Regions from separate parts of the Homo sapiens genome. Here region 2 is reported to be linked to region 1. The links are microRNA targets in miRTarBase. Many come from high-throughput screens and were not tested one by one. Region 1 holds a microRNA gene; the other region holds the end of a gene's coding sequence.

Evidence for each region. The annotated mature microRNA hsa-miR-4748 reads GAGGUUUGGGGAGGAUUUGCU and lies in region 1 at 2,418-2,438, opposite strand. An mRNA with a match to its seed (bases 2 to 7 or 8) in the 3' UTR can be bound and repressed. Matches are read on the target gene's strand: a 7mer-m8 pairs with bases 2 to 8, a 7mer-A1 pairs with bases 2 to 7 and ends in A, and an 8mer does both.
Region 2: the mRNA of PHACTR2 is a reported target of hsa-miR-4748. The part of its 3' UTR that is shown has no 7-base or 8-base seed match.

Annotation. Positions count from the first base shown.
Region 1 is chr19:10,777,318-10,782,700 of GRCh38, reverse strand. MIR4748 (microRNA 4748) reads right to left here and starts at 2,447; the gene lies at 2,366-2,447. The region is part of intron 5 of DNM2 (dynamin 2); the gene reads right to left. RefSeq lists an enhancer at 4,997-5,346.
Region 2 is chr6:143,822,770-143,828,152 of GRCh38, reverse strand. PHACTR2 (phosphatase and actin regulator 2) reads right to left here. Exons shown (of 13, transcript NM_001100164.2): 13 at 1-4,479. The coding sequence ends at 4,464. Among named protein-coding and RNA genes, the nearest start is that of LTV1, 18 kb to the left of the region's middle.

The DNA.
Region 1 (5,383 bases):
AATCTACAAGCTGAGATTCAAAGATAGGTGAGAAAAAAATCTCGGCCGGGAGCGGTGGCTCACGCCTGTAATCCCATCACTTTGGGAGGCTGAGGTGGGTAGATCACAAGGTAAGGAGCTCGAGGCCACCCTGGCCAGCATGGTGAAACCCCGCCTCTACTAAAAATACAAAAAATTAGCCGTGCATGGTGGCGCGTGACTATAGTCCCAGGTACTCGGGAGGCTGAGGCAGGAGAACCGCTTGAACCCGGCAGGCGGAGGTTGCAGTGAGCCAAGATCATGCAACTACACTTCAGCCTGGGCGACAGATCAAGACTCTGAATAAAAAGAAAGAGAAAAAGAAAAAGAAAAAGAAAAAAAATCTCAAGGCCAGGTGCGGTGGCTCACGCCTGTAATTCCAACACTTTGGGAGGCCGAGGCGGGTGGAACGCTTGAGCCCAAGAGTTCCAGACCAGCCTGGGTAACATGGCAAAACCCCATCTCTACAAAAATATACAAAAATTAGCGAGGCGTGGTAGCACACGTGTATAGTCCCAGCTACCTGGGAGGCTGAGATGGGAGGATCACCTGAGCCTGGGAGTTCGAGGTTGCAGCAAGCTGTAATCACCCCACTGCACTCCAGCCCGGGCAACAGAGCGAGGCCTTGTCTCACAAGAAAAAAAAGAAATAACATCTTAAAAACAAGAGCAATAGGGAAGAGCTAAAATCCACTATCAAACGAGTATATTTTAAACAGTTGGGTACATCAGGGTATTCATGTCCAGAGAGATCAATGGAACTGAAAAGAAAGTCCAAAACTACACCGAGAAGGAGGTAGAACTGAAAGTTAACGCTTCAGTATATGGGGGAGAAAAGCTGGATAATTCAATACACACTGTTGCAAAGAATCCAAGTGGAATGCCTACCATTGCACTCCTGGCTAGGTTTTTGTTTTGTGGGGTTTTTTGTTTTGAGACAGAGTTTCACTCTTGCTGCCCAGGCTGAAGTGCAGTGGTGCAACCTCAGCTCACTGCAACCTCCACCTCCTGAGCATCTGGGATTACAGGCGTGCGTCACCACGCCTGGCTAATTTTTGTTTTTTTAGTAGAGACGGGGTTTCACCATGTTGGCCATGCTGGTCTCGAACTCCTGACCTCATGATCTGCCCGCCATGGCCTCCCAAAGTGCTGGAATTACAGGCGTGAGCCACAGTGCCTGGCCTGTGCTCCCTTTTCTTTGTAGTGGGGTTGTGCATGTTTCTCTTGAGAAGCAAGGGAGAGGTGCCGGTCATCTATCCTGTAGGGTCTTGTGGGATGTGACTGCTCTTCATCCTCGCCAGATCTCTCTTGGATCCAAGAGGGAGGAGGGAAACGAAGACATGCCAAGGTGAGGTCACAGTAGGAGACCCAAGATCTGAACCTAGATCCCTGTGAAGCCAGAGTCACCATCACCTGTGTGACAGCACAAAGAAGGAAACAGCAGGGGCCAGTAAAAAGCATCTGGCTTGGATTTGGCTTGATTTACTTAATTAAGAGATGGAGTCTCGCTCTGCTGCCCATTCTGCATTGCAGTGGCACAATCATAGCTTACTACAGCTTTGAACTCCTGGGCTCAAGCCATCCTCCGGACTCAGCCTCCTGAGTAGCTGGGAGTACAGGCACGTGCACCATCACACACGGATTTTTTTTTTTTTTTTTTTTTTTAAAGACAGAGTCTCACTCTGTCACCCAGGCTGGAGTACAGTGGTGCAATCTCAGCTCACTACAACCTCTGCCTCCTGGGTTCAAGCGATTCTCATGTCTCAGCCTCTCGAGTAGCTGGGATTACAGGCATGCACCAACACACCCAGCTAATTCTATTTTTAGTAGAGCTGGGGTTTGATCCACCCGCCTTGGTCTCCCAAAGTGCTGGGATTACAGGCGTGAGCCACTGTGCCCAGCCTGGATAATTTTTTAAGAGAGAGATGGGGTCTTGCTGTGTTGCTCAGGCTGGTCTCAAACTCTGGGCCTCAAGCCATCCTCCCAACTGTGCTTTCCAAAATCCTGGGGTTATAGGCATGAGCCACCACGCCTAGCCTGGGTTCCCGTAAAGGAGGAGGAGTTGTGAGTCATTAGTACGCCAGGAAAAAGGGTCCAGTGGGAGGGCTTCTGAAGCCTGAGGTCACAAAACGGGAGCAGGCCTACAAGTGAGCTGAGAGTGGAAGCGCCTTCGTTCTTAGAAACAGGAAGGAAGGCAGAGAAGGGCAGCTGTGGACATCAGTGAGTCAGGAGGAAGGGGAAGAGGCCCATATCACCAAATCCTCAGCCTGGCTAGTGCCCACAGACCCCAAAGGCCCTTAGGATCCAAGATGGAGGCCTAACAGTGTCCAAGGGCAGCCGGGTCGGGGTGGCTGTAGTAGGGCGTGGGGTTGGGTAGGGTCTGCTTTCCTCTCTAGCACCAGCAAATCCTCCCCAAACCTCAGCCAGCCACAGATTTGCTTCTCAGCCCCGGATCTTCACAGCTAAACAGGGTTTTGAATTTAGCCCTGACAGCATTCCCCTGGGATCCGGGGTCGCCTCACCACTCAATATCTCAGCAGTGCTGGGGGATGCTGGCAACCAAGGTCTGAACTTTTCCCCACATCTATCTCAGACATCGAGGTGGAAAACCCAGGAGTAAAAGAAATGCTCTAAATGACTGCGGCTAAGCATGAAGGGAAAGGCAGGAGGTGCCCGCAGCTTAGAGTAGATGCCAGAGGGGAGGAATGGCTTTAAAAAAACACAAAAGAAGGCTGGGCACGGTGGCTCATGCCTTTAATCCCAGCATTTTGGGAGGCTGAGGCGGGTGGATCACATGAGGTCAGGAGTTCAAGACCAGCCTAGCCAACATGGTGAAACCCCATCTCTACTAAAAACACAAAAATCAGCTGTGTGTGGTGGCGAGTGCCTGTAATCCCAGCTACTCAGGAGGCAGAGGTTGCAGTCAGCTGAGATTGTGCCCCTGCACTCCAGCCTGGGCAACAAGAATGAAACTCTGTCTGAAAAAAATAAAACAAAACAAAATAAAACCTAGCCAGGAGCAATCGCACATGCCTGTAATCCCAAATACTTGGGAGGCTGAGCTCGGAGGATCACTTGAGCCTGGGAGTTTAAGGCTACAGTGAGCTATGATTGTCCCAGTGCACTCCAGCCTAGGTGACAGAATAAGACATCGTCAAAAAAAAAAAAAAAAAAAAAAAAAGAAAGAAAGAAAGAAAGAAAGAAAGAAAAAAACTTATAACAGCAAGAGTGAACCCTGATGTCAACCATGGATGTGGGGTGGGGTGGTGACAATGGGTCAACGCAGGCTCATCAGTTCTAGCAAATGCACCGCTCTGCTGGGCACGTTGAAAGTGGGAGAGGTTACAGATGTGTGGGCTATAGGGCTGATAGGAAATCTCTGTATCTCCCTCTCAGTTTGGCTATGAACCTAAAACTGCTGCTCCGATAAAATAAAATGCTTGAAAAATTTTTCTTTTTTTTTTTTTTTGAGACAGACCCTTGCTCTGTGGCCCAGGCTGGAGTGAAGTGGCGCCATCTCAGCTCGCTGCAACCTCCACCTCCTGGGTTCAAGCGATTCTCCTGCCTCAGCCTCCCGAGTAGCTGGGACTACAAGTGTGTGCCACCACGCCTGGCTAATTTTTTGTATTTTTAGTACAGACAACATTTCACTGTGTTAGCAAGGATGGTCTTGATCTCCTGACCTTGTGATCCGCCTGCCTTGGCCTCCCAAAGTGCTGGGATTACAGGTGTGAGTCACCATGCCCGACCCAAAATATTTAAAATATTTTTAAAATAAAATAAAAAATACTTAGGTTACTCCTATCAGAAGATCTGTACCTGAACTTGAACCTGAACCTGATCTAATTACCAGCTAACAGAGAACAATAATTGGCCAAATCCCAAATGTGGGATGTGGTCTGGTTTCTTCCACAAATGAATGGTATAGAAAAAAACAAATGGGATGGCAAGGGGAAGTATTTGAAAAGAAATGTGGGTATTTATGTGTAAAATGCTACAATGCCTAGGATTTATAGAATTTTTTTTTTTTTAGAGGCAAGATCTTGCTCTGTTGTGCAGGCTAGAGTGTAGTAGTGTGATCATAGCTCACTGCAGCTTCGAACTCCTGGGCTCAAGCAATCTTCCCACCTCAGCCTCTTAAGTAGGTGGGACTATAGGTGTATGCCACCATGCCCAGCTAACTTTTTAATCTTTAGTAGAGACAGGGACTTGATATGTTGCCCAGGCTAGTCTTGAACTCCCAGCCTCAAGGCATCCTCCTGCCTCAGCCTCCCAAAGCACTGAGATTACAGGCGTGAGCCACCTCGCCCAGCCAGTGCCTAGGATTTGTGTTAAAATCTTCCAGGAAGATGGCCGGGTGCGGTGGCTCACACCTGTAATCCCAGCACTTTGGGAGGCCGAGGCGGGTGGATCACGAGGTCAGCAGTTCGAGACCAGCCTGGCCAACATGGTGAAACCCTGTCTCAATTAAAAATACAAAAATTAGCCACGCGTGGTGGCTGGCACCTGTAATCCCAGCTACTCGGGAGGCTGAGGCAGGAGAATGGCATGAACCTGGGAGGTGGAGGTTGCAGTGAGCCCAGACTGCACCATTGCACTCCAGCCTGGGCAACAGAGACTCCGTCTCATAAATAAATAAATAAATAAATAAATAAATAAATAAAATGAAAAAATAAAATATTCCAGGAAGAAAATAATAATAATAACCACCGAAGCTGGGGAAGCCATCCACGAGGATTCTTTGAACTTTTTTCCACACTTTTGGGAATGTTTGAAAATGCTCATAATAGGCCGGGTGCGGTGGCTCATGGCTGTAATCCCAGCACTTTGGGAGGCCAAGGCAAGTGGATCACCTGAAGTCAGGAGTTTGAGACCAGCTTGGCCAACACAGTGAAACCCCGTCTCTAGTAAAAATACAAAAACTAGCTGGGCGTGGTGGTGCCCACTTGTAATCCCAGCTACTCAGGAAGCTGGGGCAGGAGAATCAGTTGAACCTGGGAGGCGGAGGTTGCAGTGAGCTGAGATTGTGCCACTGTACTATAGCTTGGGTGACAAGAGCAAAAACTCCGTCTCAAAAAACAAAAAGGAAAAGGAAAAGGGAAGGGAAGGCTCATAATAGAAAGTAATAAAAAAATTAATTAAAGTTATAAACCCTGGGGAGCTGGGAGCTGCAGATTCACCAGTGGCTGTCTGGGGGAAGTGTGGCTGCGGGTGAGTTTAGTTTCCTCTTTCTATACACTTGTTTTCTAATGTTTCAGAAACCAGCAGGTGTTAATTGTGCACTTGAAAAACGAATGCATACAAATCAGAAGAAAAAGATACATAGCTCAAAGGGAAAAGAAAGAAGGAGTTACGGTGAAATGGAG
Region 2 (5,383 bases), not on the chromosome of region 1:
TTTGAGATGGAGTCTTGCTCTGTCTCCCAGGCTGGAGTGGAGTGGCACGATCTGGGCCCACTGCAACCTCCACCTCCCGGGTTTAAGCGATTTCCCTGCCTCAGCCTCCCAAGTAGCTGGGATTACAGGCACAAGCCACCATGCCCAGATACTTTTTTTTTTTTGTATTTTCAGTAGAGACAGGGTTTCACCATGTTGGCCAGGCTGGTCTCGAACTCCTGACCTCAACTGATCCACCCACCTTGGCCTCCCAAAGTGCTGGTATTACAGGTGTAAGCCACCGCACCCAGCCAATATAGGACATATTTTAGTTATATAAGTTCATTCTGCTTTGTCCAGTAAAGCAATGTAATCTATCCTACCAGTAAGTAGAGACTACCTACACAGTAGTGAAAGATCTAGCCATTTCAAGAGGTCAAGGGACAATTCTGTAAATAAATTGCATCTAAGTAGTTCCTTACTACTCACAACATGCTCTAATAGTGTGAAGAAATTAATTCTTATCCCAAAGAATATACTTTTCCTAGTAATGATAGGCTTCATATAATTGGAATTTAAGAATGCTTTAACAATTCTACCATACTCAGGGGTAAATGACATGAATTCATATATATTGTACTAGTTTAATTTCATACCACCTACTCTGAGGAAGATTTCTTGCTCTGTTTGAAATTTGCAGCAAGGGGCACTTAAAAATAATAACAGACTGAAGAAATTTTTGGGCAGGAAAGGAAGAAAGTTTTCATTATTAAGTGTGGACATACTCCTCTGTGGTAGACAAGACTACCCTTTTCTATTGTGAATACAGTAAGATTTTTGAAAGTTGTGTCTGTCTGATTCTATGAAGCATAAATAAAATGCCTGTTATGTGTTAATATGGTACATATCAGAATATGCAATGTTAATGCAAATTTTTCCTCTTTTAAGTGTAAGCTACTGTATATATAATATACATATATATATATATATATATATATATATATATATATATATATATTTTCTTTTTTAATGCCAACGCAGCCCTGAATTAATTGCAGGCTGTAAAACTGGACCTTTTTTGACTCAGGTTTTAAGGACTCATCTCTTATTTTCAGTATTTGGTGACTTTTGAAGGGTGTATTGAATTCCTTTATTTCCTTAAATATATTTTCCCTTCAATTTCAGAACTTCCTACTAACAGAATATATTTACTAACATTAGAGAAAGATAAAGGACTACTCTCATTATGCTACTAAACAATATGAAGATGAAACCAGAAAGTCAGTTTTTCTGGGTAAAGCAAACAGATGTGTTTGCTTTTTCTCCATGTAAAATAGCTGTTCAAATGCCAAAATGGTTCTCTATTACAGATTTCAGTTAAGTAATTTAAGGAATTATAGCTAACATGTGAAAGTGCAAGACACTTCACATAACACAGGAAATTATCAGGCAAGCTGCCTTAAATGAATGCTGACTACCAGAGAACTATTTTGTCAGACTGATTGGTAATGACCATGAAGATTCTGATCAAGCTTGCTGAGCATCTTCTTAATACCCTAATATTAATGTTTTATTCTCCAATAAAAAAACTAAAATGGTCACTTTGGTTTCTACATCTGTCTAGTTCTTTCCTGCCTGGGATCTTCCTGGAGATGGGTTTGTTTTCTTCCTTAATCATATCTTGGGAACTCAGGAAAACCCACTTACTTCCTCGATGTCAGCCTAATGTCAAACTTTAAATAGCCAAAAACCTGGAATTGTGTTACAACAAAAGAAATCCAATTCCCACACACTTTTATTTTTCCTATACAGCATATGCTTACTGGTTGGATTGCTGAAACGCTGGTGGTGGACAGAGGTGCCTATGCACGGAGGGTGGGCCAGACCTCTGCATCCCTTTAGGGCCCCCAGGTAGGAGACCTCTGGCTGGGTGGCCGGTGGGGATATGTCTCATCTCTGCTCTACTAAAATAGAACCATATTCTGCAAAATACAGCTTAGCTCATAATCCTTTAATTCTTTCCACAGCTTTTTACTCAAGCCATCATTCTAATAAAATAATTGGTGATTCCGATTACCTAAACAGTAGACTAGCAGTGGCTAATTTTTTTTTTTTTTTACTTTTAAACTTGTCTCTAACTTAGAAAATTTTTTCTAAATGTATCGATTAGTGTAAAGAAAAAGTATGAGTAGTTAATAAATCTGACCTATTATACAAGAAATGCAATTTTGAAATACCAGATTTTCATTTTTTGTACTAAGTGTATCTCATTGTAGGCAATAAAAAATTGCATCACAGGCATCAAAAGTGGGAAAAAATTGTTCCTTTTATCAACCAAATAGAAACTTTCAATAACATACTTTGAGTGATAAAATGGTGATGTCTTACATTTACCATTATAGAGAGGTCTTGTGGTTAGAAATTTAAAAAGTGTTTAAAGATGATTAAGCATAGACAATTAAAAGAAACATTATATCTCTTGGTATTTTTCTCAAGACACTAAAATAATAAAATAAAAATATAATTAAGGAAAAGCATGACTTTGGGAAAAAAAAAATCACAAGTTAATTTTTATGGCTGGATTGAAACACTGTAAAATAGACAAAACCTCAGCCAGAGACAGACACCTGGGCATGCAGAAAAATTTTTTCAAAGCAAAAAATTTGTCTTATCCTATTAGTGAAATGACAACAGACTCTAGGTGTGTTTTATTAATGCACAGAGTCTAACAAGAGGTGCAGTAATGCTGGTTACTTTTCCTAATTCTAACATGGTCCTGGCTTTTTATAGTAGGCCAACTGGCATTAACATTTTTTATTTTTAAATAAAATGATCCGATTTCAAGTGGTTCTTTAAAATACCAATGAATGGCAGGATCTACATTTATTCACCGGGTTAAATGCTTACTTTTCGGTTGAAATAGAAAATGACAGTCTTGAACCAGAAACATCTTAGAAAATTGTAGTCCAAACTCTGAGAATAAAATAAACTCTATTTGGGTCTTGTTTTGTTATTCATTTCATGTGTTTTTAATTAAAGGGGCACAAAGCACTTGTGAAGAACAATGAAATGCAAGGTGGTATTTACATATGGTCATATGTATTTGGGAGCAGAAGTCATAGTGTGCCTGTGACTCCATGGAAAATAGCAACACAATAATAGAGAGTTTCTTAATGTAAACAATACAGACTGTAGGCTCATAGGGAAAACTTCCACTACTTTAACCTCACTGATTCTTTTGCATTGACAGTAAATACTGTACTGTATCTATGGATGCCATCTGCAGATTCTTAAAATACAAGATGAGGATTTCCTCACACACAACTTAGTGGGAACTTTCCATGTTCTGTTAAGCCTTTGGGTGTTTTTTTGATCTGTGTCCTTTTTTTTTTTTTAAATAGCAGCAATCCAACTTTAAAAAAATGCAGCACTAAAAAAATAACTAGTCCTTATTCCCATGCAGGACTAACTGCAGGCAGCACATTTGTATCTTGCTTAAGTTTTGACTTTGGATTCAAGTTTTTATTACAGGTGTCATGATTGCCAATACTGTCTTCTCTAGGTGAAGTATGGTTGCTTTGACTTTGGATCTAATCAAGATAGGGAAAGATCAAAAGATTTATTTCTGAAGCTTGCTACAGTTTTCTAGGGTCACATTACATCTGACTTTATTCCCAGTCCTCTTATCCTGTGAAGGCTGGTACACTAGGAAAGGGATATTTAAAAATGTCAAGTGTGCATAGCTAATGCTACTTAAAAGCATGCAACAAAATTTGGGTAAGCATGCTTGTTAAGAGTCAGTAGAAGCTCTTGCATTTAAGAAAAAGATGCATGAAAACATTCAGACTTATTTCTGGCAACTGGATTCACTGGCACAACATAAAATAATGGTACTATACTGTACCAACATAATGGTGAAACAAGAGTATTCTCCGATCAAGTCTTTGAGGAATCCACATCAGGAGGTTAAATTCCTAAATCCCTTAATAAGTTCTCAGCTACCGAATAACTACTTCAAAAATACATTTATGCTTCAATTTTCTCTTTTCTTCATTAACATAATGAAATATTTCTCTTTCTTTCTGATTTCCAACTCCCACCCCTTTTCAGTGCCCAGCAATTTTAATCTATATTTTTCTTTCACCCGCATTATAAAATTTGGCTTTCTGGTAACAGGGAGCCAGTGATTGTCTTCTGCTCATCTTCTTTGATTAAAGCTTCTGATGAAGAATATCCACGGTGTCTCTTACCATCGCTGTGCATTCTGGGCAGCAAGAGTCACTGCATCCTTCCTTTTGCTTGTTGGAGCCATCTGGGCCACACAGGTGAGGAGCACTTCCCAGCCAAGCTGAGTCACACACTTCCTTCACCACAAGTTAAACGGAAACACACACATTCAAATCCCAGTGCAATATCAGGTTTTCAGGAAGCAGGGCTTCCCCCAAAGATGATCAGTCTCTGTTTCCAAATAGTCTCACTCTTCGTTATGGACGATGAAACCTGGAGTAAGAAATAGAAACTATAAGCCTGTGGCCTAGGAGCACATTCTGCATGCAGTGAGCTGAATAAGGCGTGGTCATGTTTACAATGAAAAGGTACCCCAGATATCCCCCAACTGAATTACTGTTTACAAATTTCTGTCATAACAAAATACTGTTACAAATATTATTAAGGAAAGCATATATAAACGCTTTCCTTATATATATGTTTACATATAAGCATATAAGGAAACCTTATATAAAAGATGCTGGTTATAGTATTCAAGTTACACAGCAACCAAGACAGAAAACATCACTATTCTTGAGCATCGTGCTCTAACCTTTATCAAGCAGAGGGAGATGTTTCACAAAGGGATTTTGGTACACCTCGTCTGTATTATAAAAGCACAGTAACAAATAGACACTTTTTCATTAGCTTCAGCCTCTCATCATCTCCTGCTGACGACTCCAAATCTACTTTCTACACTTGAATTTCCAAAAGCCCACAGGGCGCTTCCCCCCAGATGTTCCACAGGTATATACTAAGCATGTCCACAACTATACAAAGCTTTCCTTGTTAACCTGCCTTTGCACTTTGTCTTATTTAATATTCTATCTTTAAAAATATTTTTGGTCTAGAAACCTCAGATTAGCAATTCATTTCTCTCCCTCATCCAGCATTTCCTATTAGTCACCAAGTCCTGCCTCAACTGCCTGTCTTGGAATCATTAAAGTTCCATCTTTTGCTGGCACTACTTTTACGGTATGCTTGTTAGCCAGCCAGCTGGCTTCCTTTCCCTCCTTGTGAGTTCCTGAACATTCCTTGCATTTTTGTAGCCCGGTGCTTTTGAACATGCTGTTCACTAATACTGCAATTCCTTCCCTTCATTTCCTATCTATGTTTTCATTTTCAAGATCAAGGTCAA